Linked DNA regions of Homo sapiens: all the other regions are reported to be linked to region 1. Evidence: microRNA targets listed by miRTarBase, many of them from high-throughput screens and not tested one by one. Region 1 holds a microRNA gene; each other region holds the end of a gene's coding sequence.

Region 1 (10,228 bases):
GCACAGGGTGCGGAGAGAAGCTTGACAGCTGCAGTATCGGGTGATCTATGATGTGACTAAGGGCAGGCCGTAAAATTAGGTGGCATGTAGGGAAGGCTTCCTATAGGAGGGCACACCAGGATGGGTGTCGTAGTTTAGCTGGATTCCATCCGGGCCGGAATGGGTGTGTTCCAGCACATGCAGAGACCTGGATGTCTGGGCTTTGTCAGTTGAGAGGACCTATAGGTGCGGGCATGGAGCAGGAGAGATGGACGGGGTGCAGGACTCGGAGGCCTCGGATGCTGGGCCGATGCCGGGCCGAGGGCCTGGGTTGGTTCCAGTCTTGATGGACACGGTTGGGCCTGTAGACGTTCATTCACTTAGCCTACATTTCCTGAGGCCTCACATGTGCCCCGCTGTGGTGGGCAAGCCTGGGGGTAAGAGAGGACTCAGACCCCATCCCCGCCTGTGGGAGAGGTAGGATCAGAGACCACACTTCAGGGGGACAGGGCCCTCAAGACCCTCAGAGGGGTGCTCGGTCTCCACACACGTCCCCTGCAGCAAAGGTCAGCCTCTCACGACCACGTGACCGGAATAATGGTGGCAACCACAGCTGCCCTTGAGGAGAGGCCATCCCCGGGCCACAACCCATGTGGGACGGATGCTGCGACGCGACTGCAGATCAGGCGGAGGAGAAACGAGAGTCTGTGTGTGTTAGTTTCCCAGGCTGCCGTAGCAAAGTATGAGAAACTGGCCAGAAGAATGGAAATTGATGTCTCAGGGTTCTGGAGGCTGGAAGTCCAAAATCCAGGTGGTAGGGCCAGGCTGTCTCTGAAATCTTACAGGGGAAGGGCCCTTCTGCCTTTCCTGGTGCCTGCTGAGGCTGCATCACCCGTCCTCACATGGCCTCTCCCTGTGTCTCTCTGTGTCCTTGTGTCTTCCCTCTGTGTGTGTGTCCGTGTCCACGTTTCTCCTTTTCACAGACACCAGCCATAGTGGATTAGGGCCCGCAATTTAACTCGATTACCTGTGTAAAGATCTTTCCAAATTAGGTCACCTTCTGAGGTACTGGGGCTTAGGACCTCAACCTGTCTTTTTGAAGGGGGCACACTTGAACCCATAAGACTAGGAGGACAGAGGAGGCCCCCGTCTCTGGCTGGGAAGGTGAAGTGGGGCCAGGACTGATTTGGAGCAGACAGCCCAGAGAGGGGAGGGGACAGCAGGAGGCTGGGCATGGAGTCAGTCACTCCAGGGTTGGAGTCAGCACAGGATCCTAGGCTTGGGGTCCCCAGCCCTTTCCCATTCCCTCCCAGTCCTCATGATTAAAGACAACAAATGTCGGCCGGGTGTGGTGGCTCACTCCTGCAATCCCAGCACTTTGGGAGGCTGAGGCAAGTGGATCATGAGGTCAGGAGATGGAGACCATCCTGGCTAACATGGTGAAATCCCGTCTCTACTAAAAATACAAAAAATTAGCCAGGTGTGGTGGCAGGCACCTGTAGTCCCAGCTACTCGGGAGACTGAGGCAGGAGAATGGCATGAACCCAGGAAGCGGAGCTTGCAGTGAACTGAGATCATGCCACTGCATTCCAGCCTGGGCGACAGAGCGAGACTCCATCTCAAAAAAAAAAAAAAACACAGACAGCAAATGTCCCCTGTCCTGTCTGGGACTGGTGCTGTGCTAGCACCAGGGATTGGGTAGGGAACTCAGCAGGGTCCCCGTCATCCCAAGGTGCATAGCCCAGGATAGAGTGGGGGACAGCATGGGAGCAGGCTCTTCAAGCATAGCCTGGGGATGGGGATGATGGCAACCCTGGGGGCTGACCGCTCTGCCCCTGCAGGTTCATGGGCGGGGGTGGTGAGAGCTGCAGCCTCATCGCGGAAGGACTCAGCACAGCCTTGCAGCTGTTTGATGACTTCAAGAAGATGCGCGAGCAGATGTGAGTGCCCCCTCCACCCAGGCCGGGCCGGTCTCTCTCTGCCTGGCCTGGAACCACTTTGCCTGTCGAGTGGTTCTACCTCCAGCCTCACCCTGTAGGGCATGGGCTCTGTGTCCCCAAGCACGCTGAGCCAGGAGGCTGCAGGTGTGTCCTTGGGGGACGCCTGGCCAGTGCCCGGTCTCAGCATCCCCATCAGGAAGCAGTGCCAACTCTGGGTGTCACTCCTGCCTGCCCTGCCTGCTGGGTGACGTAGAGCACATCCCAGAACCTCTTGGAGCCTCAGTGTTCTCAGCTGTAAAGTAGGGGCGTTGCTTCTGATTCCATGTGAGGCGGAATATGTGCATCTCCGCTGGTGCTGGGTCTGGGTTCCTTCTCAGGGCCTCTGTTGCTGCTGGCTCCATGTCTTCTCTCTTTCCTGGTAGTGGCCAGACGCACCGGGTCTGCCTCCTCATCTGCAACTCACCCCCATACTTGTTGCCTGCTGTTGAGAGCACCACGTACTCTGGATGCACAACTGAGAATCTTGTGCAGCAGATTGGGGAGGTGAGGACTCCAGGGTCTGAGGGACGAGGGTCTGGGGGCCCGGAGTCTTGGGTCTGAGGCAGGAGGCACTGAGGGCCTGGACTCCTGGGTCTGAGGGAGGAGGCACTGGGGGCCTGGACTCTTGGGTCTAAGCGGGGAGGCACTGGGGGCCTGGACTCAGACACAGAATAGTCACAGACTGGTGACCAGCTTTGCTTACTCTCTTTTCGAAACAGTCTGGCTCTGTTACCCAGGCTGGAGTGCAGTGGTGTGATCTTGGCCCACTGCAGCCTCTGCCTCCAGGGTTCAAGCAATTCTCATGTTTCAGCCTCCCGAGTAGCTGGGATTATAGACGCCCGCCACCACGCCCAGCTGATTTTTGTATCTTTAGTAGAGATGAGGTTTCACCATGTTGGCCAGACTGCTCTCAAACTCCTGGCCTCATGTGATCTGCCTGACTCGGTCTCACAAAATCCTGGGATTACAGACGTGAGCCTCCACACCTGGCCCACTTAGTCTTACTGACAAAACTAGAACCCAGAGTCTCCCGGGGCAGGTGATACCTGGTTTCAGGGTCTCCTGCCTCAAAGCCCAATGGGAATTGTGGTTGTAGGGCTGGTGCCGTCCAGCCACACAGCAGTTGTGGTAGGTTGGGGGCCGGCCCCAACACCCTTATGGAGGGGGCCCGTCATGACTGCTCGGCCCCTCTCCTACAGCGGGGGATCCACTTCTCCATTGTGTCTCCCCGGAAGCTGCCTGCGCTTCGGCTTCTGTTTGAGAAGGCAGCCCCCCCGGCCTTGCTGGAGCCGCTGCAGCCTCCGACAGATGTGAGCCAGGACCCGAGGCACATGGTGCTGGTTCGGGGACTCGTGCTGCCTGGTGAGGCCTGGGCACCGTGCGCGGGGATGGGGGCTCGACGTGTTTCCCCAGCTCCCTCTGACTTGGATTTTGGATTTCTCTCCTTTCTCTGCATCTTGAATCCCTTCTCTCTGGGGTTGGCCATCCCTCCTGCTCTCAGTTGGGGGTGGCTCAGCCCCAGGCCCCCTCCAGTCAAAGCAGCCAGTCCCCCTGCCTCCCGCCGCACCCTCAGGTGCCACTCTCTCAGCAGCCCCCCAGCAGCCTCTGCCCCCCGTCCCCCCGCAGTACCAGGTATGGATATTTCCGGGAAGGGACATGCTTCTGGGGACTTGCTGGAGCCCTGGCCCCTGGGGAGAAATCTAGTTGCATGTTGGAGCTTGTGGGATGATGGGAGTCCCATGGGACATTGGGAAGGTGGGACTCTTGGGGCCATGGAAGCTCATGTGCTGTGTGATGGGTGTTGTGAGCTAAGCTATCCCAGCTGGTGCCTCATGGGGCCATGGGTGGTGTGACCTCGTGGGATACCAGGACTGGGGGGCCATGGTCCTCACCAGTCCCTTCCCTTCTTCCCTTCTACCCACAGGTTCCCGGGAACCTGAGTGCAGCTCAGGTGGCCGCGCAGAATGCAGTGGAGGCTGCCAAGAACCAGAAGGCTGGGCTGGGCCCTCGCTGTGAGTCCTGGAGTGAGGATGAAGGGCGGGCAGGGGCCAGGCAGGCCTCTCTCCACACACTTGTTCCCCACTTCTTCCCTTGGTCTCTCCCACAGTCTCGCCCATCACCCCTCTCCAACAAGCTGCTCCCGGAGTGGGTCCCCCCTTCAGCCAGGCCCCAGCTCCCCAACTACCCCCAGGACCCCCTGGCGCCCCCAAGCCACCACCTGCTTCCCAGCCCAGTCTGGTCTCCACTGTGGCCCCTGGCTCCGGCCTGGCTCCCACGGCACAGCCCGGGGCACCGTCCATGGTAGGTGCCTGCACGCCTCCTGCCCCTGCTCCTTCCTCCTGCTGTCCACAGCTAGGACAGTTAGAGGATGAGTCATTTGCCTTCCAGGGGGATGTGGCTCTCGTGGTTCTGGGGCTTTGGGGGCTCGTGGTGTGTGTGCTGCAGATGCCTGAGATGAGGGTCTGGGGACAGAGTGGGGAGGCTCATGGCTCCAGGAGGGTCAGGGCTGTTCCGAGAAACCCAAGGAATCCCTGGGTCTGGGAGTCCAGGGCATCGCACAGCTTACGAGTCCTCGAATCCTGCAAGGTCCAAGCATTTGGGGTCCTGCGGCTGGCCAAGTGCTGTTCTGGGGATGGAGGGGCAGAAGAAGGGATCTTTCCTCCTTCCTGGTTTGCCCTCACAGGATGGCCCCCGGAGGCTCCCGGCCTTCCCCATTCTCATGGCCCTCCTTCCTCCCCTCTGGCAGGCAGGCACTGTGGCCCCAGGAGGGGTGAGCGGCCCTTCCCCAGCCCAGCTGGGAGCCCCAGCCCTCGGTGGGCAGCAGTCAGTCTCCAATAAGCTTCTGGCCTGGAGCGGGGTCCTGGAGTGGCAAGAGGTGAGGGGCCTGAGGGTCCATTGGGCACTTGGGACTCCTGGGGCCGTGGGGCTGGGCATGTAGGACTCATGGGGCCAGATGCGTGGGGTCTGCAGTGCTGGGTTTGGAGGCATTCGTTGCGCTGGACCTGTGGGATGCGGGGCGAGGCCAGGAGCCCCATGGAGTGGTGGGACTTGCGGTACAGAGGAGAGTCCCCATGCAAAGAACCCAGAAAAGCCCAGGATTTGGGGCCCAGAGAAGAGCCCAGGCGATGTATCATCTGGGGCACAGTGGATGGTGGGATTTAGGGGCCGGGCACGTAGCTGTAACATTTGAGGAACTGAAGGCTTGCTGGTCTGGAGGAGGGGCCTGGGGCTCATGGGACTTAAACTGGGGAACATCCTGAGCTTTGGGGCTACCAGGGTAGGACATGAGGGCTCAAGGGGACTGAGGCTTATGGCCCTTTTTACTGACATGCTCTTTTTTCCCCCTCAGAAACCCAAACCTGCCTCAGTGGATGCCAACACCAAGCTGACGCGGTCACTGCCCTGCCAGGTCTACGTGAATCATGGCGAGAACCTGTAGGTGACAGTCAGGGGCGGGGTGTGGTGGGGCTGGGGCTGGCCCCCTCCTCACACCTCTCCTGGCATCGCCCCCAGGAAGACGGAGCAGTGGCCCCAGAAGCTGATCATGCAGCTCATCCCCCAGCAGCTGCTGGTGAGTGGCGGTGGAGGGCCAGCCCTGCTGCCGGGCAGTCCTCACCCTGCTGTCTCTTTCCTGTTCCCTGCCCCACCCCCACTCCCTGCCTCATGTCCCCGCCTCACTTGCCCACACCAGCATGCCAGCCGACTTCTGTGTCTCCCGCAGACCACCCTGGGCCCTTTGTTCCGGAACTCAAGGATGGTCCAGTTCCATTTCACCAACAAGGACCTGGAGTCTCTCAAAGGCCTCTACCGCATCATGGGCAACGGCTTCGTGAGTCCAGGGCATGGGGGGCCGAGGGGTGTTGACTCTTGTCCTGCTTTCTGCTGACCTTTGACGGGAATCCCAGAGTGCCTGGGCCCACGGAAGCCGTTTTTGATGGTTGGGTGCACTTCATGCCCTTAGGTTCCTCGCCTTTCTTCTAGAGCCGTGACTTTTATTATAATCATCGTATGCACCAGATTTGAGGGATATTCCACATTAAAAATGTGAGCTGGATGTGACAGGATCAGTTAGGAGGAAGCTGTTGATTCTGGCATGGCTTTATGGGATGTGTTCATTTCCTGTGGCTGTGGTAACACATTACCACAAGCAGAGGGGCTTAAAACAACAGAAACGTGTTCTATCCCAGTTCTGGAGGCCAGAAGCCCAAGGTCAGGGTGTCAGCAGGGCCACGCTCTCTCTAGAGGCTGGAGGGAAGGCCTCTTCGTTGCCTCTTCCGGCCGGTAACCCCAGGCTTCAGGTGGCATCGCTCCAGGGTCTTCCTCCATCCCGCAGCTGTCTTCCCTCTGTGTGTGTCTCCACATGGCATTCTCTCTGTATCTTTGTGTCTGTGCTTATAAGGACATCAGTAATTTTGGATTAGGCCCCATTTTCCTGACCTCATCTTACTACAATTGCAAAGACCCTCTTTCCAGATAGAGTCACCTTCACAGGTGCTGGGGACTGGAACCTCAGCTTAGCTTTCTGGTTTTGTTTTTTGAGACAGAGTTTCACTGTTGTCAGCCAGGCTGGAGTGCAGTGGTGCAATCTTGGCTCACAGCAACTTCCGTCTCCTGGGTTCAAGCGATTCTCCTGCCTCAGCCTCCCAAGTAGCTGGGATTACAGGCATGTGCCACTATGCCCAGCTAATTTCTGTATTTTTTAGTAGAGACAGGGTTTCACCATGTTGGCCAGGTTGGTCTCGAACTTCTGACCTCAAGTGATCTGCCTGCCTCGGCCTCCCAAAGTGCTAGGATTACCGGTGTGAGCCACCGCGCCCAGCCTCAGCATAGCTTTCTGGGAGTCACAGTTCACACTTTGTAACTCGGGGAAGGAGCAGATCAGTTACTTCCGTGCACCAGGCACTCCTGCAGGAAAGAGAACCTTAGGGGGATCACCTCACGAGACCCTCACAGAACCTTGTGAAGAAGGCATTCCTGAGAGTTAGTACTTCCGGCTGCAAATCACGTAGTTTCCCAAACACATAGATAATTGGGGGCACTCGGAAAAAATGTTCTCTTATGATTCTGTGGGTCACCTGGGCTCAGTGGGCCATCTCGCTTGGCGACTCTCACGGGGTTGCCATCAGATGGCAGCTGAGACTCTGGTCATCTGAAACCTTTACTGGGCTGGATGTTCAAAACAGCTCCTCACACAGCCCTGGCTGTTGGCTGGGGCTTGGCTAGGACCGGCCATCCCAGTGTCTGCACATGGCCTGTCCACGTGGCCACACTGTGGCAGCTGGGTTCTGAGAGGGCAGGCGTTGTAGGAGCAGGCATTTATATTTTGCACAGGACAGGACATCTAGAGGGGGCCAGCTATTGGGATTGGTTTCATAGGTCTGTGACATCAGGGACAGGGCCCTGTGGTTCTCTTGGCCTCTCCTTTATAGTCACAAGGTAGCTCTCATGGCTCCACGCATCCTGTGTGCTTTCATGAAGGAGGGGAAGGGGGCTGTGTGTTTCCCTTTCTTCAAGACAGCAGAAACTTTCTCAGATTCCAGAGCAGGCATTCCTTTCACCTCCTATCCCGGACCTAGGCCACTGGGCAGCCCCTAGTTGATGGGAGGCTGCTGGGAGCAGGTATCCGTGACTGTCTGGGGCTGGGACATGTTACAGCCCCAGACAGCATTGGGAATGCAGGGGAGGAGGACACTTGGATATGGAATAGGCAGCTAGCAGGGTCTGTCTCAGGCAGGAAACCGAGGCTCAGAGAAGTCAATTCACTTGGCCAAGGTCAGCCTCGCCTCCCTCAGGAGCCCCTGCCCTGAATGCTCCATGTGTTACCCCCCTGATGACCAGTGATGTTTCCTGGGTGCTTCCTGTGGGCTGAGCCTCAGGCAGGGCTCTTGCTGTGGATCAGACATCGCATAGTCACAGCGACCCTGTGATGTGGGAGCACTCCCCGTGGTGTACACTGGCCGGTGCTGAGGGCTGGAGGATCTCTTGGATACCCGGGGTCCGACCCACCGTTGATCACAGGCCTGTGGGTACCACGCTGTGCATCTAGGCCGCTCTCCCGGCCGTGACCCTCAGCCGCCCTCTGAGGAGGCCGCCGTGGCATTTTATGCCCAAGAAACTGGGTCCATGAGGAGCAGGTGGTGGCTGAAGGTTGAAGAGCTGGGCTCCAGCACTTTCTCTCCGCTTTCCCTCTCAGTGGGCAGCTGGAACCCTAGCTTGCCCTGAGCGCCTCAGTTTCTGTCTCCAGAGCAACCCATAGCACACCTGTTCTCCTTAACCTTCTATAGCAGAAACCTCACCTCACCTTGCCTGTGGGGCCTCTAGAGCCTTCTGGAATGGGGAGGGGGTCAGGGCTGCCTCTTTCAGGGCCTGAATGGTTCTGAAGAGCTGTTGTCCACCCAGGCGGGCTGCGTGCACTTCCCCCACACGGCGCCCTGTGAGGTGCGCGTGCTCATGCTCCTGTACTCGTCCAAGAAGAAGATCTTCATGGGCCTCATCCCCTACGACCAGAGCGGCTTCGTCAACGGCATCCGGCAGGTCATCACCAACCACAAGCAGGTCCAGCAGCAGAAGCTGGAGCAGCAGCAGCGAGGAGTGAGTGTTGACAGTCCCCAAACCAGCACTCCGACCCCCTCCTGCCCGGGCCCCACATGGCCCCCTGGGGTCTCCAGGACCAAGATGCCCACCCTTCTCCCAATATGTGGTGCCTCCAAGCTAAGTCCCACTCAGATTTTCTTGCAGTCTCTCTCCTTTTTCAGCATCCACATCAAAGCCCTGACACAGCTTCCTCCTGGAGACCTTGGAGTGTACGGCATCCCTCCCAGACCACTCACCCCCAAAGAGAATGTCCCCATCTCCTTACTAGTTCCCCTCAGGGCACAGGCCCTCCCGCCTCAGATTCAGGATGCCACCACCCTCAGTTACTGACCTGCCCCTCTCTCCCCGTGCAGATGGGGGGACAGCAGGCACCCCCAGGGCTGGGGCCCATTCTGGAGGACCAAGCCAGGCCCTCACAGAATCTGGTGAGGACAGGGCTGGCGGGGTCGGGGCTGGGTTGGGGAGGCCCCAAGGCTGCGCTCTGTGCCTGCAGAAGGGGCGTGAGGCCCTGCCCATCTCCCTCACCCCTGTGTCTCTTCCCACCAGCTCCAGCTCCGCCCACCGCAGCCCCAGCCTCAGGGTACCGTAGGGGCCTCTGGGGCCACGGGGCAGCCCCAGCCCCAAGGTACTGCCCAGCCCCCGCCAGGTGCCCCTCAAGGCCCTCCTGGAGCAGCTTCTGGCCCACCCCCTCCTGGACCCATCCTTCGGCCCCAGAACCCTGGGGCCAACCCTCAGCTGCGAAGCCTCCTCCTCAACCCACCACCGGTGAGATGTTGGGGTGGGGTAGCGAGAGTTCCAGATCCTGGCCCTGGTGGTTCTGGTCCTGTTGTCTGGGAGGAGGGAGGTTGACTGTGGTCAGTGGGTGTGAATGGGGACCCGCCCAGGGCTTTAGGCAGAAGGCAGACCGCCTCCTCTCCGTCCATCCCCCACCTTTGAAGAAAAACTTCCCCTCACCACTAGCTGATTCCATCTCTGAGCAGTGTCTGTGTTGAGAGGTGGGGAGTCTCTACCAGGAGCCTCTGAGCCACTCTCTGTGTTCTCCCAGCCGCAGACTGGGGTGCCCCCACCCCAGGCCTCCCTCCACCACCTCCAGCCACCAGGGGCTCCTGCGCTGCTGCCTCCGCCGCACCAGGGCCTGGGGCAGCCCCAGTTGGGGCCCCCACTCCTGCATCCACCACCTGCCCAGTCCTGGCCCGCACAACTTCCCCCTCGGGCTCCACTGCCAGGTAAGGGGACCCGGGGGAGGGCAGAGGTCTGGACTGAGTGTCCCAGCAGCTCCTGGGCTAGAGCACCAAGACCGAGTGCTCCTGGGAAGTAAAGACATAGGATCCAAGAATGAGGGTTCCCCCATGGCCTTTGCGGAGCTCTGAGGGCTCCGGGAAAGTACAGCCCATGGGTCCAAGGACCTAGTGGGTTAAGAGCGTTTCCCATGATCCTCCTGTGTGTGCTCCTGGGATTGCTGGGAAATGTGGTCTTAGGGCCAGAGAAGTAGTTTTGGAGAAGGGCCCCCAAAGGCTCATGGGAAACAGCATATTTGTAACTAGATGGGGCCAGAAGGTGCTTCTGTTGGGTCCCCCAAGGGCTGCCTAGAAAACTTAGTGCCTCTGGGCCCTCCTGGGCCCAAGGGCCTACTGGGAGATGCAGTCCCTTCCCCACTGCCCCTCAGGTCAGATGCT
Region 2 (10,228 bases), not on the chromosome of region 1:
CTTCCCATATTTCTAATCTTGGTTGATGACACCCCCAGGGTACTTGTCATTCACACGAGAAACCTGGAAGACTTTGACTTTCCTTCCCTTTTACTCAGTCATTTCTTTGCTCCCTTATAAATAACTCCCAAATCCATGTCCCTTCTCCATCCCTACTTCCAGTGCCGCCTTTTGTTCAGGTTCCCATTTTTCCCCTACCTTGTATATTTTCAGAGGCTTCCTAATTAATCTTGCCCTCCTCCATTTCAGTCCATTTTTTCCTCATTGTGCTACTATAGTGGATTTTCTAAGCTATATCTAATCTTAATGGTTCTCCACTTAAAAAATATTTTCTGGCTGGACATGTGGCTCACACCTGTAATCCCAGCACTTTGGTAAGCCAAGATGGGTGGATCACTTGAGGCCAGGAGTTCAAGACCAGCCAGGCCAATATGGTGAAACCCCTGTCTCTAATAAAAATACAAGAAATTAGCTAAGCACGGTGACATGTGCCTGTAATCCCAGGTACTTGGGAGGCTGAGGCATGAGAATTGCTTGAACCCAGGAGGCGGAGGTTGCAGTGAGCTGGAATCACGCCACTGCACTCCAGAGCGAGACTCTGTCTCAAAAAAAAAAAAAAAAAAAACCTTTTCTGACTTCTATTGTCTGTGAGATAAATTCCAAAATTCTTTTCATGGCATAATTCACTACTTCTTAAGTCATTTGTTTAATCTATTAGAGACTTTGCTAAGCATTTTACATGCAATTACATCTCTTAATCTTCACAACACTTCTATGAGATAGATATTCCTATTCCGAAAATCTTATTTTACAGAAGAGGAAACTGGCTTTGAGACGGTAGGGCCAACAGGTAAATGGTAGAGTCAGGATTTGAATCCAGGTCTGGTCTTAGGTCTTATACTTTTAACCACTTTAACGTACTGTCTCCCATGAGCTCTGACCCCCTACTCCCTCTCCTTTTCACGTCATATTCCATGTGCAAGCTGTGGTCTAGCCATACAGAATTACTTTCAGTTTTGCAAATATGTCGTGTTCTTTTGTGGTTCTGTGCATTTGCACATTGTTTGCCCTTCCTGTCTTTGACTGTCTGACCCATTCTTGCCATGCTTTAATACACAACTCAAAAGTTGCTTCTCCCTGAAGCCTTCCTGGGCTCCTCCAGATCACTCTTAAACATATTCTTAGTTCTATTACAACACTTACCTGACATTGAACACATTTGGCATCTAGCACTTAGTAAATAAAGACTTTCTTCATCTTTGGATCCTTAGTCACAAGTACATGTAACTAATACACAGGTGCTTAGTAATTAATTATTGGTGAAATAAATTGAAAGAAAATATCTGTTCTACCTGCCTCATAGAGATGTTTTTTGAAAGTGAGATAATAAATAGAAAAGTATCTTTCATATTATGCAAATACATTTATTATTATGCAAATGTAAGGGATTATTTTTACTTATCTAGTGATGAGCAACTTCCTGAAGGCAGTCCTTGGCTCAGACGCTATTATTAATAGTATTGATTTGCGTTCCAGTTCTTCTGTAGGACTGTTCCACTCAGAGTTTTCCCAGTTTCTGCTTTTTAGCCCCTGTAATGTTTTGAGAAGGCTAGCCTGAGTCATGAGTGAAATTCTTTAGGCCCTCACTCTTTAGATTATTGCTCTTATATTTCTCTGTCCTCATGTCATTGATCATCAAGTAAAGATATATCTTAAGAGAAGCAGTAGTAACATTTTTATTTATTTATTTATTTATTTATTTGAGACAGGATCTCACTTTGTTGCCTGGGCTAAGTGCAGTGGTGCGATCTCAGCTCACTGCAACCTCCACATCCCATGTTCGAGCAATTCTTGTGCCTCAGCTGGGCCTACAGGCGTGTGCCACCATGCCCGACTAATTATTGTATTTTTAGTAGAGACAGGGTTTTGCCATGTTCACCAGGCTGGTCTCGAACTCCTGACCTCAAGTGATCTGCCTGCCCCAGCCTCCCAAAGTGCCATAATTGAAGGAATTACAGGCTACCACGCCTGGCCAAGAGAAGCAGTAATAATATTTGTATGTTTAAATATCCTTGGAATGGAACTCATGGTCTACATGGTAAACTAATTGTTTACCTATATTTTGCAGATATATTTGGGACTTTTCTGACATTTCATGTAATTAGAGATATATCTTTTAGGAGAATCTAGAGGAGACTACAAGCTTTGAGAGGAGAACTTTTTTTTTAAGTCTGTTCCCAGATATCAGATGTCTTAAGACTTGCAGCAGTCTTTCTGAATTTTACTTATAGATGAGGCAGAGGATACTAAACATCATATAACTGGATTATGCTGATTCTCTCTAGCAACTTTCAAGTTACATTAAATATTAGTACTGAAAATTACTTTAAAATGCCCTACTATATTTAATTTTAAAAAATTATTATTAATTAATTTATTGTTTTAGACAGAGCCTCTTTCTGTCACCCAGGCTGGAGTGCAGTGGGATGATCACAACTCACTGCAGCCACAACCTCCCAGGGTTAAGCAATTCTCCCACCTCAGCCTCCTGAGTACGTGGGACACAGGCGTTTGCTACACCCCCTGCTAGTTTTTGGGGTTTTTTTTTTTTGGTAGACACGGGGTCTCCCTGTGTTGTCCAGGCTGGTTTTTGACTCTCGGGCTCAAGTGATCCTCCCGCCTCAGTCTCCCAAAGTGCTGGGGTTACAAGCATGAGCTACTGTTTCCAGCCATGTGTTTAATTTTAAAAATTGAAGAAAAAAGACACTATGAGGAAATGACATGTAAAACACAAATCTTTTGAGGCAAATGTGAAGTGGCACCTATTGCTCAGTATTGCCCAAAACTGTGGGACATGATCAACAGAGAGAATGGAAAACCTAGTCATGATAGTTAAATTTGAAATTAACCATCTTCTGACCCTAGTTTTTTATTGTTGTTGTTGCTTTTAAATGTAAATATAATCTGGATTTCCAGTTATTACTGATATCTTCAGCAGTCACAACTGGTTTCCTATGCCAGTGTTAATGAAATCTTTTCTTGGCCAGTTCTTTTAAAAAAACGTAACAGGCCAGGTGCAGTAGCTCACATCTGTAATCCTAGCACTTTGGGAAGCTGAGGTGGGCAGATCACCTGAGGTTGGGAGTTCGAGACCAGCCTGACCAACATGGAGAATCGCCGTCTCTACTAAAAATACAAAATTAGCCGGGTGTGGTGGCGCATGTCTGTAATCCCAGCTACTCGAGAGGCTGAGGCAGGAGAATCGCTTGAACCCGGGAGGCGGAGGTTGCGGTGAGCCTAGATCACGCCATTGCACTCCAGCCTGAACAACAAGAGCGAAACTCCATCTCAAAACAAAACCAAAAACAAACAAAAAAAACTTTTTTGTTAAGTTTTGCCACATAAACAATTTTAGAGAAAATACCTGACAATAGTTAATGATTATTTGTTGTAGGCAATAATGGTCTAAGCACTTTATATATATTAACATTTAATCCTCACAACTACTCTATGAATTAGCTATTCTTATTGTCCTCATTGTACAGATGAAGAAATAGAGGCACAGAGTGGCCAAGTAACCTCAAGTCACACACACAAGCTCAACTTTTAAGTATTTAAATATACTTCAAATATATTTCTAAAGGAGTCTTTAACAGAAAAAAGTACTGACTCCATGTACTTTGCTGCTGCTTTTGTGATCCCTGTTGAAGTGACTTCAAGAAGTGACAATGATGCCAGGCATTTGGTTAAGTATGATGTGGTGAGTTAACCTTAAAATAGAAAATTTGGTCAATAAGCATTTTTATTTTGGAGCCAGAGAGCTATTTTAGGGACCTGCTGCCTGGAAAGGATATCCTTGGGACAGCAGATCCCTTAGTTCCTAATGAATAGCTGCATCACCAACACAGCTTCTCCTGACCATGGTAGGGCCATCAGCAGGGTAACTCAGCCCAGCTTATTAACCCTTCTGTTTTCTTTCCAGCTAGCCACAGTGCAGCCTGGCCAGAATTTCCACATGTTCACAAAGGAAGAACTTGAAGAGGTTATCAAGGACATTTAAGGAATCCTGATCCTCAGAACTTCTCTGGGACAATTTCAGTTCTAATAATGTCCTTAAATTTTATTTCCAGCTCCTGTTCCTTGGAAAATCTCCATTGTATGTGCATTTTTTAAATGATGTCTGTACATAAAGGCAGTTCTGAAATAAAGAAAATTTTAAAATATTTGTTAATAGACTGTTCTCTTCTAATAGTCTTTTTTTTTTTTTTTTTTTTAAGAGATGAGGTCTCACTATATTGCCCAGGCTGGTTTCAAACTCCTGGGTTCAAGTGATCTTCCCGCCTCTGCCTCCTGAAGTGCTAGGATTATAGGCGAGAGCCACTGTGCCCAGCCATTGTAATACAGTCTTTTGTTTGAAATGCAAATGTTAGTGGGCCAAAAGGACAGTGTTATTAATATCCCTATTCTATGAAGATGTCTGTTCTAAAACTGTTTTAGTGATGCTCTATAACAGAATCAACTATATCCATTAATCCCATGGTGTTGATAAATGAACTAGTCCAGCTCTTCCCAGTGGTTAATAGATGTTAACAGCACTGTAAATCCATTTCGGCCCTATAATTTCTGGAGCAAACGTGTATTTTTGCTGCTTTTCTTATAAGGAGATGCTACTAATTGACTATCAGAAGAACATGTTTTGAGGTCCTCCTCAAAACATTGATGGGTTGGAATCAGCCATCAACAGTGTTGTACCAGTTCTTGGGTCTTGATAGACAATTTGGAAAGAGATTTCCTTGTTTACGAAGTGAAGGACTAAGAATTAAATTAATGACCTTGGCCTCACTGGCAATCAATTACAAATCTCTATATCAGTAAGAGAATTGTAAAATTCAGAAGCAGTTTACATTAGACTTTGGAATGAATGATGAACTTTCCCCATTAGAGCTGCCATCATATGATTGGTGGAGATTGTTTAAAGAATCATTCTATCTCAGCCTCAAAAATTACCACGGGAAGATGGTATCAGTATCACTACTTAACAGATGAAGAATCTAATGCTGTGTGCCCATGGACACACAAAATTAAGCTGTTGGGACTTGAACAGCTCAAATTTTCTTGTTTCAGATCACCAGCTCTTGAGTAATAGGGAAATCTGGAGATTTGAAAAGTACTTGCACTGTCCACAACATGGCTAATCCATATGTGGATGATGCAGAATTGATTTAATTCACTAACAGGGACCCCATAATTATTTGCTGGGCTCTGGGTATATTGATGTGTAGGAAGTTGTACTATATGTTAATAAATTATGACTATTTGGATAGGCTGAATTCATACTAAATCCATACTGTAGTTCAACAAAAAACAACATGTTTATATACATTTGGAAACTGCAATGATAGGAAACATTTGGAAGAAAGGGATTTTGCCCTAGAATAACACATAAGGAAAGCAGAGAATTAGAGTATATTGTTACTGAATGTTCCAGAGACTTCTAGTGATTTTAACACTTATTAAGTATAGCATGTTGATGGGGAGATTTGTTTCTCTAAAGATCACTTTGTTTTATTAAATCCTAATAGAAAATACCCTTGAAAATCCTATCTCATTTATTCCTGTAACAAATTTATTGAGCACCTACCTACTATATGCCAAGAAATGTATTAGCCATCAGGCAGAGAGCTGTTCAAATGGTAGATATGATCTGTGCTCCTGTGAAACTTCTAGTGGGGAGAGCCAAACAATAAACAATATTCCTTTTTAACTCTAGGTTAATGCAGAAATGGATAAAGCCCATGTTGCTTTTGGGAGAGGTGAGTTGTGTCTCTGAATCACATGCATTTCATAGGGGGAAAAATGCCCAAATACTAAGGAGTAGCTCTTAGCCTATGTCCGTTCGCCTCAGCTTAAGTTGTTTTCCCTCCCACTGGCTGGGCAGCATATTTGTGTTTTACCTGGTAAAACAGTAAATTTCGTACCTTCTATAATTGGCATTCTTCAAAGAGGTAGAACTTTGATTTTTTTGTAGAATATTAAAACAAGCTTTCTTAGGTTAAAGAAGTGATCTTACTACGAACAGCAATGGTTTCATGATGTGTAATTGCTTTATGTTATCTTTCTGCTATAGAATGTTTCCTGGAGAAAGGTACGGTTTTTAGTAATAAGATAAATTTACTTTAGTCCTGCAAATAAGGTGAAATCTTATGTCCAGTATCTCACAAAGGAGAACTGACAGTGCCACTTTTATATTTAATGTCAATCTCATTAGACAAAAATGAAATATAGTTCCTAGGGTTTCCAATTTAAAAAGTGAAATAATAAATATATTCACTCAAACATTTTCTCAGTGCCATATGCAAGTTACCATGTCCCAGAAGCTGATACAGTTTGAAGAAGGAAATATATAAGTACTGTAAGCCTGTGATAACTAAAAGCAACATACTAAAAAGTGAAGGTACAGATAATTGGAACAAATTTAATAGCGTTTAAAAGTGTATTTGGTAATTTCTCCAGGAGGTGGCACTGTTGAGTTGTTTTTTCTTTTCAGACAGTAAGACAATAGACCATTCATCTTTGTGTCACCCAAACAAAGAAATATTCCTTTATAACCCCCTTTCCTCCCCCCACCTAATCACATGCTACTGGAACTGACTGTCTTGTGATCTACTCCCATAGTTGGCATAGATTTAAAAATAATCTTTTTTAAATTAATCTGATAGTAGTTATGGAAAGGAACAAATTGTTCACCAATTTTCATCAGCTTTATCTTTTCAGTCCAGTAACTGAGAACTTAAAAAGACTATTCTAGTGATTTTACTATCCTGCTCAGATGGCATTCAAAAACATTTTTCACTTCTCACGTCTTGGAAAAATTTGTAAATTCGTTAAGTCTTTTTGTTTGAAAGTTAATGTGACTGGAAATATTTTAATGTAAATATCGGGTTGGGTGCATTGTATCATTTTGCTCTACAATGACTATATCCTCATTTGGGTTTATGGCCAGTTTATAATTAAAAGTAATCTTTACTTGCTTTGAGTGTAATGACTTGCATATTTTGTATCTTTCTATTTGCTACCTTTTCTACTGAACAATTTCTAGCTTTCTGAAGGGATGGAGTCAGTAAGCTTAAGGATTCAGAACTGGTTTTACCTGTGCTACGTGTTGTAGAAGTTGTGTGTGCAGCTTCTGCGGTAAAGGGAACAGCGTAGGGGTTTTATTTTATTCATTAGAGGTGGATCGGGGTGCTAATTTAGAGGACATCACATACTGGAACCAAACTTGTCCGAAGCTCTCACTGCAGAGTTAAGGCACTTTGGTAAAATAAATGTGCATCTAGGAAATGATCATGTGTACAGTAGGCATTGGATCATTCTCTTGCCCCTCTTTTACCTGCCCCTAATGCCTAAGCTACATTCGAAGTCCTGGAAAACCTGTAAGTAATTCCGCCTTTGGCCTACCTCCCCTCAGAAGAGGAAGGTGAGAGAGGCCAAACGTATGGAAAGACTATTCTTCAGGCTTGCAGGAGTCACGGATGTCCTGATGTCTGTCTCCGTAGGATGTGGCCCACATCAGTTCGCATTCACCTTCTTGCAGCAAGGCAGCTGCTTAGCAGACAATGGGCGCTCCAGTGAGCGGGGTTTATAAAAACCCGAAGCCCCGGTTCATGATGGAGCCCCCTTTTCCAGCTGAGCAAGCTCAGGGATTTCCTGGGTAGGTTTTTCCAGGCTCTGCCTCACCGAAGGAATTTTAGGAGTGTCTCTGGGGAACAGGAGGGACGTAACCCAGCCCCAACTTGAGGGCGCTAGAGGTGCGGCAAGGGGTCGCGACGCCAGGAGCCCGGGGCTCGGCGGGAAGGTATGAGAAGCTCCTACGTGAACTCCACAAGCCGGGCCCGGGAGACGCCGGGCGAGGCGGGGTTGACCTCAGCAGTCTCTGCCCCGTTCCAGCCAATCAGTCCCGCATCTTAGCATCCGAATCCAGGACCCCCGAAGCCGGAGGCGACGCGAGCCAATGAGGAGTGGGCCGGGGAAGAGGGACAGGCGGCCAGCCTATGGGGCGGAGAGGCCCGGCCGCGCGTATCCAAGGAGCGCCGCGCTCGGCTCGGGGGTGTGGCGCGCGCCGGCGGGGGTGGGCGGGCGCGCCGGGCGGCAGGTGTCGGCGTCGGCGGCATTCGGCGGCGATGGAGCGGCCCTGGGGAGCTGCGGACGGCCTCTCGCGCTGGCCCCATGGCCTCGGCCTCCTCCTCCTCCTGCAGCTGCTGCCGCCGTCGACCCTCAGCCAGGACCGGCTGGACGCGCCGCCGCCGCCCGCTGCGCCGCTGCCGCGCTGGTCTGGCCCCATCGGGGTGAGCTGGGGGCTGCGGGCGGCCGCAGCCGGGGGCGCGTTTCCCCGCGGCGGCCGTTGGCGTCGCAGCGCGCCGGGCGAGGACGAGGAGTGCGGCCGGGTCCGGGACTTCGTCGCCAAGCTGGCCAACAACACGCACCAGGTGAGCGGGCGCCGGGCCCGGGAGCCGCTCGGGTGCGAGGTGCCGCCCGCGTGCCCCTCCCGGCCCGTGCGCCCCGCGACTCCCGGAGGAGACCCCAGCCCTGCCGCGCCCGCGTCCCCCGGGCCGCAGCCCCGAAACTGCGGCGGGCGGGCGGGCGGAGTCGGGCCCGGGCGGCCGGCGGGGCTGTGTTTTGTCATAGGGGAGGCAATCTTAGACTTCCACCGCATTCTTTTTTTTTTTTTTAAGTTGTCAAAATCTCTTGAACATCGTTTTTCGTCTGTATAAATAATCAGGACCCAGTAACGCTGTTAGGCCCCAGGAAGGTGAAGGAGTAATTAACTCTTGAGCGCTTGCAGAAGTTGGGCTGCGCAGAAGCAAAGGTGTGTCCTCTCTGGGTCAGTACTTTCCGGGTGGGAGAGGCGGGAGTTCAGGAGGCCCGAAGCAGCGATCTGGTCACCGTGTTTTAATAGTTAAGGGGACTAGCTTGGAAATGAGATGGCAATATTTATGTGATCTCTTTTACTGCTTCAGATTTGACCTTCTGTCATGGTACGGAAGTCTGACTAGCATGTCTATATCCCGTGGTGACAAGATTTTCAATAGTTAAGAAACGCATTGCACATATTCTGCTTTGAGCCAGCTCTTGGTCAAAAGACTTTCAAAATTATGGGATTTCTGTCCCTGGGGACAAGCAGCTCAACCTTTGCACACTACTGGACTGACAAAACTAATTATTAAGAAAGTCCTGGTTCCTTGCTTCAGCACAACTTGGGCATCTTTCTCCTATTTCTCTAAAATTAACAATTTAATCCTTGCTAGCCACATTTGCATAATGTATTTTCAATTCTATATATTTTCTCCCTTGCCTGTTTTCCTCTTTCAAAGAAAATGAATTGCACTTGGGGGCAGAGATGGGTGGCCAAGGCTCTGTGCCAGCACTTGTCCTTCTGTAACCGTTTTTCAGCGTCAGCCAAGCCTCAGTCTCCCTTTGGACTGCCTGGTTATCTGGACCATACTTGTTACCTGTAATAGAATTCTCTGATCTGAGGACACAAGACACAAATATTCAGGAATAATTGTGCTTAGTGTATCCCGAGCAGCAGCTGTGTAAAGGTAGCCAAGCTAGTGCTGGAGGGTGAGACAGGTTGGGTAGAATGAGTACTGGGAAGTCTTCCTACTTGATGAGAAAAAAAAATCGAATAGACTTCCTTCTCACAGTGGGGGATTGAGAAAGGCTTTACAACACTAATGCTTAATTTATACTGGACCACTTCCTTCCTTGAGCTAGCTGGTCACAGCATTCTTGCTCCATATTTCAAATTCTTCTCTCGCTGGTTGACCTAACTTTAGGTCTGCTGCTACTCCTGGATTTAGATTTACTCCTGTTTTTCTTTTTCTCTTTTTTTGTGAGATAGAGTCTTACCTCAGCCTCCTGAGTAGCTGGGACTACAGGTGTGCACCACTATGCCTAGCTAATTTTTGTGTAATTACTATTTTTTTTTTGAGATAGGGTCTCACTCTGTTGCCCAGGCTGGAATGCAGTGGTGTGATCACAGCTCACTGCAGCCCTGACCTCCTGGGCTCAAGTGATCCTCTCACCTCAGCCTCCCAAGTAGCCGGGACTACTGGTACATGCACCCAGCTAATTGTTCTTTTCTTTCTTTCTTTCTTTTTTTAAGAAACAGGGTTTTGCCATGTTCCCCAGGCTGGTCTTGAACTCCTGGGCTCAAGTGCTCCACCCA
Region 3 (8,097 bases), not on the chromosome of region 1:
CCCAGTTTTGGGCTAACTGGCCTTTCCCCAGCCCTATCTGGCTTTGTGCTTGTTCTCTCCTAGTGCCCTGGTGCTATGAGTTTCTCGCCATTTTGGCAGGGAGGAGCATTGAGCCTTCTCTGGGCCTTCTCCCACATGTTCTCCCTGTAGGGAACCATCCCCATCCTCCTCAAGCCTGGCACTGATGTCGAGACCAGCCCAGGTGCCACAGGCATCTGGTGAGCAGCCGAGAGGCAATGGTGCCAATCCCCCTGGAGCACCCCCGGAGGTGGAACCGTCCTCTGGCAACCCCAGCCCCCAGCAGGCAGCCTCTGTGCTGTTGCCACGATGCCGTCTCAACCCTGACAGCAGCTGGGCTCCCAAGAGAGTGGCCACAGCCAGCCCCTTTTCTGGACTCCAGAAGGCCCAGTCTGTGCACAGTCTGGTGCCACAGGGTGAGAAGCCTGATGGGTTCAGTGCCAGGGTGCAGGGTGTATGGAACACATGTACATGCTGGAGGAGGGAGGGCCTGGTGTGGCCCTGATGTGCCACTGTGCTGGCCACTAGGTGTCCCTTAATGGGCATGTGGAGGGGAACAGCAGCTCTTCGGGATTGGGTGTTGGCACCTGGGATGCCTTCCTCAACACCTGACCTGTGTATACCTCTGTCTCCTTTGCAGAAAGACATGAGGCCAGTCTGCAGGCCCCTTCACCAGGCGCACTGCTGTCTCGGGAGATCGAAGCTCAGGATGGTCTGGGCTCCCTGCCCCCAGCTGATGGCCGTCCGTCTCGGCCTCACTCCTATCAGAACCCCACCACCAGTTCCATGGCCAAGATATCCCGCAGTATCTCTGTTGGGGAGAACCTGGGCCTGGTGGCTGAACCTCAAGCTCATGCCCCCATCCGAGTCTCACCACTCAGCAAGCTGGCCCTGCCCAGCCGGGCTCACCTGGTCCTGGACATCCCCAAACCACTGCCTGACCGTCCTACCCTGGCTGCATTCTCTCCTGTCACCAAAGGCCGGGCCCCTGGCGAGGCAGAAAAGCCTGGCTTCCCGGTGGGCCTAGGAAAAGCTCACAGTACAACTGAGAGATGGGCCTGTTTGGGGGAGGGCACCACTCCCAAGCCTAGGACAGAGTGCCAGGCTCATCCTGGGCCCAGCAGCCCCTGTGCCCAGCAACTGCCAGTCAGCAGCCTCTTCCAAGGCCCTGAAAACTTGCAGCCCCCACCCCCTGAGAAGACTCCCAACCCCATGGAATGCACCAAGCCAGGGGCAGCCCTGAGCCAGGACTCAGGTGTGCACAGCTCCCCAGCTCTCATCTCCTGCCCCATCCTTACTCTCCCCTCTCTGTTGGCCGCTGTCTGGCTCCATCCCATTTCTGTGGGTACAGCTTCTGGTGTTTCTTGTCCTGTCTGCTCCTGTCGCAGGTCCGTAAGTCACACCCCTGATGGTGAGACCCTCCTGCTAACCTTCATGATTTCCTTGTGACTCACTTGCCCATTCAGTGGCTTCTGAACTTGGGGCTGGCCGTCTCCTCTGGACCTTGTTTGTGTGGTGTTGGGGAGGCCGTTGGAAGAGAAGCCAAGAGGAAGGGACTGAGGGCAAGTGGGGGGTGCAATGCTGAGGGCTAGGTCTCTCCTGTTCTGAGTGTCTTGGGTGCGGAGGCCTGAAAGGGCTACATGCTGGGCCTCACTGAGCTGTATCCGTCTCTTTCAGAGCCAGCGGTGAGCCTGGAGCAGTGTGAGCAGCTGGTGGCAGAGCTCCGCGGCAGCGTGCGCCAGGCAGTGCGGCTCTACCACTCGGTGGGTGTTAGGTGCCCCCCGGCAGGAAGGCGGGCACGTCAGTAGTGCTGGGTGTTTCGGATAACCATGTCCAGAACAGTATGCTAAGCCTCTTGTGCTGACAGGATGGCACACTCAAGAACATCTTGGGCAGCATAGGTGAGGGGGTTAGAGGCCAGGCTAGCCTCTTGTACCGGGCACCTGCGGTCATTTCTGGTTAAGAGCTGGAGACTTCCCTCAGGAGGTGAGGCCTGAAGAGACCACACCTCCTAGTTGGCTCAGGACAATCCCAGTTTATGTCGTTGTCCCAGTGTAATTATTAATGGCATCCTTTTTCATATCCATGAATTATTTGGCCCCCTTAGACATAGGGGACAGTCCAAGAAGGCCCAAACTTTGAAAGAGAAAGCAGATTCTGCCGGAGTTGTCATAAGGAGTTGCTTATAAGATGTAGACGGTTCTGCAATCCAATGGGTTCCTCCTTGGGCGTCACCCCCAGAGTCTGCCTGCATCCCATGTTCCCTGGCCATACATGCTGATCTTGGCGGGTAGAGTTCCCAGCTAGTCCCTTCTGAGGCAGGCTGGACCCAGGTGGGGCCCCTCCCTTTTATATGTCTGTTGACAGGCTCCTCCACCTCACTTCTGGGGGTGCTATTTCAGGTGGCTGGCTGCAAGATGCCCTCAGCAGAGCAAAGTCGGATTGCCCAGCTCCTCAGAGACACCTTCTCTTCAGTGCGACAGGAGCTGGAAGCTGTGGCTGGGGCAGTGCTGTCCAGCCCAGGCAGCAGCCCTGGGGCTGTGGGAGCCGAGCAGACACAGGCCCTGCTGGAGCAATACTCAGAACTGTTGCTTCGAGCCGTGGAACGGCGTATGGAACGCAAACTCTGAGTTCTGGAAGCCTGTCCCAAGTGAATGAATGCTCCAGCGATTCCAAACTGCAGCCCCTCTGCCCCTCACCAAAACCTGCGGGGCTGCTTGGAGTGGAAAGCAGGGAGCAGTGTTCAGAGGCAAAGCAGCCTTCCCAGCCGCTCCTCGTGGGGGGCCTGTATTTATTAATTTATTTCCCTGACTGTTGCCTCACTTCCTTGGAACTCCTGCCTCCACAGCCCCTCCAGTGGCAGGGACAGGTCTTGGGTCTTTGTCATCTTGGTGCTGTGAGAGGTAGGAGGGCAGCCTGCCCCATCTAGGAATCTGGGAAGGGCTGGCCCTCTCTTAGAAGCCATTTGAAATTACTGCAGGGATTAGCTCCCTGTGGTGGAGCATACACAGGGTACTCTGGGGTCGAGGTGAGAGGTGATGTGGTATTCAGTGCCCGTCAGCCAACTGTGGGCCTTCACCTCTACCTGCACTTCCCCTCTCACACCAGCTGCACTCCCGTGGCTGCCAGAGCAGGGTGGTTTTCCCCAATACCTGGAGCTCAGAAAGGCAGAGCCATCTGGCCCTCCAGGGTGTCCCCAGCCATCAGGAGACTTGAGTTGGTATTTGGACCTGAGCCCGCACATTCCACTCCCATTCTCCCTCCAAGAGGGGCCCAGCATTGTATTTCCCTGTGACCCCTTACTCTCCTGGCCAGAACTTGAGCCAGCTGTGGGATGTTGCTGCAGGACAGTAAGCCCTCACCTGGGCAAACATGAAGCTCTGGCCTCCTTTCCTCAGCCCCTTGTTCTTCCCTGTCCTCCACCCTGGACCCCAGCCGGCTGCTGGAGCCCAGAGGCCACCTTCTCCCTGCATCCTGAATGATGCTTAGTCAGAAGCCTGTGTTGGAACATCCCTCGTTTACGGGGCGCTGGCCTACCTCCTGAGGACCTCAGCCACAGATGAGATCACACGCATGCACGTGCACACATGTACACACACACACCTACCTGCACAGCACGCTGTTGAGTGTTGGTTGCTAGAGTATCTGGCTGGCTGCTGTGTGCCTGGTTTCCTCACATCCTGCCTCAGCTTCACCACCCTGGCTTATGTGGAACACCTATCAGGGAGCAGAAAAGGGGTGCAGTACACTAAGTGAACCCAGATTCTGGATTCTTGGTGTCCACAGCCTAGCTGATACGAGATAGCCCATAGGACACCTGGTTTAGGTAGAAGGAGCCTCCTCAAAGGCAGTGCTGGGCACCCACGGGTGTGCTGGATACTGGAGTTTGAGAGGAGGGAGGTGCTGGGGCCAAAGGAGACACTAGAAAAGTGGTAGATGGGACAGGTAAGTGGCAGAGGTGAGGGGATAAGTTAGAATGTAAAAGGGCAGTAATTAGGGGTGAGGGAAAGGAGATAGGGGACCCTAGGAGGTAGAGTGGGACCATGTCGTGAGGCAGTTGAAGAGTTGAGGAAAGGTTTTTCTGGGCCCTACTGCTCCCCTCTGCTGCAGGTAAGTCAGAGCAGCTTTACCACAGCTTCAGGCCACGAGAGCCCCTTCACCCGCCCTGCTGCGCCATAGGCAGAGGCTTATAAAGAAATGGGTTCTGGGCCAGGTGTGGTGGCTCAAGCCTGTAATCCCAGCACTTTGGGAGGCCGAGGCGGGTGGATCACCTGAGGTTAGGAGTTCGAGATCAGCCTGGCCAACATGGTGAAACCCTGTCTACTAAAAATAAAAAAATTAGCTGGGCGTGGTGGTGGGCGCCTGTAATCCCAGCTACTCGGGAGGTTTAGGCAGGAGAATCGCTTGAACCCTGGAGGTGGAGGTGGAGGTTGCAGTGAGCCGAGATCGCGCCATTGCACTCCAACCTAGGTGACAAAGCTACACGCCATCTCAAAAAAAAAAAAGAAAAAGGGTTACAAAAGGTTCCCAGCTCCGGGGCATCAGCCTGAGTGCGCTTGAGCTGCTCCAAACCTGGCCCTTCCCCACTCCTCTAGCATCGCCACCCGCATGGCCCTGGAACTCCCGCGGCGGCGGGGGCGGGCCCGTGCCTGCTGTGCCCCGACTTCCCACACCAGCCGCGCCCACCGCAGGTGGGACTCAGGTTCGCCCTCTGGGCCAGGTCCTTCACGAGGAGGGAGCTACCCTTCGCCAGAAGTTTGTGAGAATGTGGCCGCCCTTTTCCTGCCCTCTGCCCCATGTGGGTGGGGGGCCTCGTGGCCCGGCCGGCGCCCCGTCCCCTTCTGCATGTCTGAGGCCACCGGCAACCGCCGCCCCACTCCAGATTTGCCCCCGCCTTGTTTTGAAAGCCCCTTATTTATAACTTTTATACTTTGTGCAGGTCGCGGCGCTTCCTGCCTCATCCTCGGCTGCATGGGGCGGGGGCGCTGTTTTTAACGTGCCCGTTTGTACTGATGTATGAACTTGTCAATAAACACAATTGTTTGTTAACCCTGGGATGCCGGCCAGTGGGGCAGGCCGAAGCGGGCGCTGCCAGTCGCTCCACCGCTTCGGTGGCAGAACCCGGTGTGTGTCCAGGGGCAGGACGGGGCGGGGTGCTGGGGGTGTGGCCTGCGGCGGGTGCCTCTGGAAGGGCGGGGCGAGGGTCTGGGGGTGTGGCCTGCGGCGGGGACTCTGGGGAGGGCGGGGCGAGTGCTTGGGGTGTGGCCTGCGGCGGGGCGTCGGGGAAAGGCGGGGTCTCGGCCGGCGCTGACGCAGCCATGGCGGAGGCGGCTTTGGAAGCCGTGCGGAGCGAGTTACGAGAATTCCCGGCCGCTGCAAGGGGTGAGTGGCTCTCCCACAGGCTGCGGCGATTTCCGAACACGGGAGGGGCCCTGGGATGCCGCTGACACCGGGGGCTCGGAACCTCGTGTGTGCGACTGCCCTGAGGCCCCGCTCGGGTTGCTCTTCTGTGGCAACCTGCTTCCCTTCTCCCGTGTTCGCGCGCTCCCGCGGCTTCCTGGGTGATTCTGTTCACGTTGTTCCCAAGGCCCGGTGCCGTCTTGACCGTGGTCGCGGCGAAGCCCTGTGTTTCCTACAGTCTTGAGCAGCTTGCTGTTACCCTTGTTGAAAGCTCATCGAAGGCACACAGCTGGTGGTCGGATTCCTCCCCCACGCGCCCCACCTCCGACCTCAACTCCCTTGTCGCACTTTGGGAGGATTGCAGGCTGACCAAATGGTCCCTGGCTCTTCCCCTGCTTGGTTTTTATTCCTTTTCTTTCTTTCTCTCTTCCCTCCTTCCTTCTTTTTTCTATTTTTAAATGATTTCTTACCACTGAACAGCAACACAGGCTCATGTGTATGTGATGGGTATGTAATATACAGTGGTACGCAATGTAAATGAAGCAAGGTTTCCTCCCAGCCCCAGTTTGCATTCTTACAGAAAGATTGTTTATATCCGTGCACACACGACTTTTTACCCTTTTTTTGTACAAATAGTAGCCTGCTAAACACACTCTTCTGCACCGTGTATCTTGGAGATCATTTCACATTCCTCTACCTCAGTCTTTTTCACGTCTGTGTGCTAGTGCTGTATTCACTTAGTCATTTAGGTCATGTCCAATCCGTTGTTTTCAATAATGCTGCAACGAATACTTTGAGGATTGATTTAACAAATACTTATTCAGCATCTCTGTGTGCCAGGCTCTGTTCAGTGTGTTTGAGATACATCACTGAACAAAACAAATCTGTCTTTTACAGTCTATGTCCTGTTACATTCTAAGTGAGAACGTGGACAATCAACCACAGGTGTACTGAATGAGTACATTGTAGAGTAGAAGAAGTAGGTTAGAAGGTAAGTGCAGGCAAAGCCCTCTTTGGGAGTATGCCTGATGTGTTTAGGAAACAGTGAAGAAGCCAGTCTGCAGGAGCAGCGTCTTCTGCGCATGTGTGAGTATGTTTGTTGGTTAAATACTTTATATTTTTTGAGACAGGGTCTTACTCTGTCACACAGGCTGGAGTGCAGTGGCACGATCATAGCTCGCTGCACCTCGACCTCCCAGGTTCAAGAGATCCTCCTGCTTCAGCACCTGGGAGTAGCTGAGACTACAGGCATGCGCCACCACGCCTGGCTAATTTTTTTGAATTTTAGTAGAGACAAGGCTGGTCTCAGATTCCTCAAACAATCCTTCCACCTCAGCATTCCAAAGTTTTGGAACGCCATGGAACACATAAGCCACTGCTCCCGGCCTTGTTAAATTCTTAGCAGAGTTATGGGGTCAAAGCAATTGTTTGGATCCCTTTTGAAATTTTCTCACTTGGAAGCCCCAGGAGAGGAAAGCAGCCATTCTCTAAAGGAAATGGTGAGCAAGTAAAACAAATCCCTAATTGCAGAAGTCCAAAGGGTGAAAAAATGGCAGTTTCCATGTATTTTCAGAATCCCAGGCTGTGTGCAGTACTCACGCCTGTAATCCTAGCACTTCAGGAGACCAAGGTGGGAGGCATCTCTTGAGGCCAGGAGTTCAAGACCAGCGTGGGCAACATAGTGAGACACCATCGTGTGGTGGCATGTGCCTGTAGTCCCACCTCCTGAGGCAAGAGGATTGTTTGAGTCCAGCAGTTTTGATGACAGTGGCGGGCAGTTGGAAGCAGATGCTGTCATCATGCTGGCTGCAGTGGGGAGGCACAAGTCGGGCAGCAGAAGTGGCTCTGGGAGCAGCAGTGGTGGTAGTGAGTCCCCTGTTCCCTGCATCCCCGAGGCAGCCGACTGCACCACCCCCACCCTCACATGGCTGGGCAGGACCTGCTCCTCAGCCCAGACCCTCTGCTGCAGCCTGAACCTCGCTCCCTGCCACATCCCAGAAGCCTGCGAGCACCCTGCCAAAGGTGCAACTGGGACTTGTAGGGACTTGCACTTGTGAGTACAAAAATACTCACACATGTGCACAAAGACCCTGCTCCTGCAAACTGGCTTCTTCACTGTTTCCGGAACACAGGACTACTAGGCTCATTTGTTTGGGGTGGTCAGAGCTGCCATGCCATATGCACCTTGCCCGCCGCCGCTGTGGGGAAAACGTGAAGAGGAGAGGCAGCTGGGGCCACATGTTCCACAGAGCTGGCGGGAACTGGGGACAAGTGGGAGCCCCACCCCTTCCAAGTTGGTGGAGTGGGAGCTCCCTAGGCGCAATTACAGCCACCCAAGCCAGGACTGCAACTCAGGCACCCCTGTGCTCTTGGGAGCTAGGAGCAGGCAGGAGCCCCACCCTCCTAGATGCAGCTGCAGCCTCCCAAGCTGCAGCTGTGGACCCAGGCATGTCTGCACTTTTGGGGACCCAGGAAGGCCCCTTCCTGCTGCCGCAGGCTTGGAAGTGCCTGATCCTGCTGTCTGGCTTCTCCCCACTGTCAGCACCTGATCAGATCATGGAGCAAAGTTGAGGCCGAGCCTGGGTGCTATTGCAGTGCTGACACACCAGCCCCCTGCCTCCTTGGCCCCCTCTGGCCTTTGGGTGCCAACGAGCATGGGAGGGAGGCCAAGAGGGGCTG

Evidence for each region. Region 1 holds the annotated microRNA hsa-miR-6800-3p (CACCUCUCCUGGCAUCGCCCC, at 5,448-5,468, shown strand). A microRNA usually pairs through its seed, bases 2 to 8, with sites in the 3' UTR of a target mRNA and lowers its output. Matches are read on the target gene's strand: a 7mer-m8 pairs with bases 2 to 8, a 7mer-A1 pairs with bases 2 to 7 and ends in A, and an 8mer does both.
Region 2: the mRNA of PSMA5 is a reported target of hsa-miR-6800-3p. Seed matches in the 3' UTR shown: 7mer-m8 at 5,809-5,815 and 7mer-A1 at 6,002-6,008.
Region 3: miRTarBase lists MAPKBP1 as a target of hsa-miR-6800-3p. Seed matches in the 3' UTR shown: 8mer at 2,917-2,924 and 7mer-m8 at 3,049-3,055.

The regions. Positions count from the first base shown.
Region 1 is chr19:49,826,629-49,836,856 of GRCh38, forward strand. It overlaps MIR6800 (microRNA 6800), which reads left to right and starts at 5,390; the gene lies at 5,390-5,471. It overlaps MED25 (mediator complex subunit 25), which reads left to right. Exons shown (of 18, transcript NM_030973.4): 4 at 1,821-1,919; 5 at 2,342-2,462; 6 at 3,158-3,320; 7 at 3,460-3,590; 8 at 3,883-3,970; 9 at 4,066-4,259; 10 at 4,705-4,833; 11 at 5,308-5,393; 12 at 5,472-5,529; 13 at 5,680-5,787; 14 at 8,358-8,549; 15 at 8,906-8,977; 16 at 9,099-9,317; 17 at 9,598-9,778; 1 more. RefSeq lists enhancers at 7,931-8,431, 8,432-8,932.
Region 2 is chr1:109,395,845-109,406,072 of GRCh38, reverse strand. PSMA5 (proteasome 20S subunit alpha 5) reads left to right here. Exons shown (of 9, transcript NM_002790.4): 9 at 3,983-7,031. The coding sequence ends at 4,060. It overlaps SORT1 (sortilin 1), which reads left to right and starts at 8,155. Exons shown (of 20, transcript NM_002959.7): 1 at 8,155-8,486. The coding sequence starts at 8,181. RefSeq lists an enhancer at 7,021-8,002 and silencers at 8,029-8,158, 8,199-8,268, 8,279-8,378.
Region 3 is chr15:41,822,789-41,830,885 of GRCh38, forward strand. MAPKBP1 (mitogen-activated protein kinase binding protein 1) reads left to right here. Exons shown (of 31, transcript NM_014994.3): 28 at 151-434; 29 at 659-1,273; 30 at 1,696-1,781; 31 at 2,421-5,067. The coding sequence ends at 2,648. JMJD7-PLA2G4B (JMJD7-PLA2G4B readthrough) reads left to right here and starts at 5,304. Exons shown (of 25, transcript NM_005090.4): 1 at 5,304-5,400. The coding sequence starts at 5,337. JMJD7 (jumonji domain containing 7) reads left to right here and starts at 5,304. Exons shown (of 8, transcript NM_001114632.2): 1 at 5,304-5,400. The coding sequence starts at 5,337. RefSeq lists enhancers at 2,974-3,856, 4,902-5,131, 5,163-5,457 and a silencer at 5,192-5,281.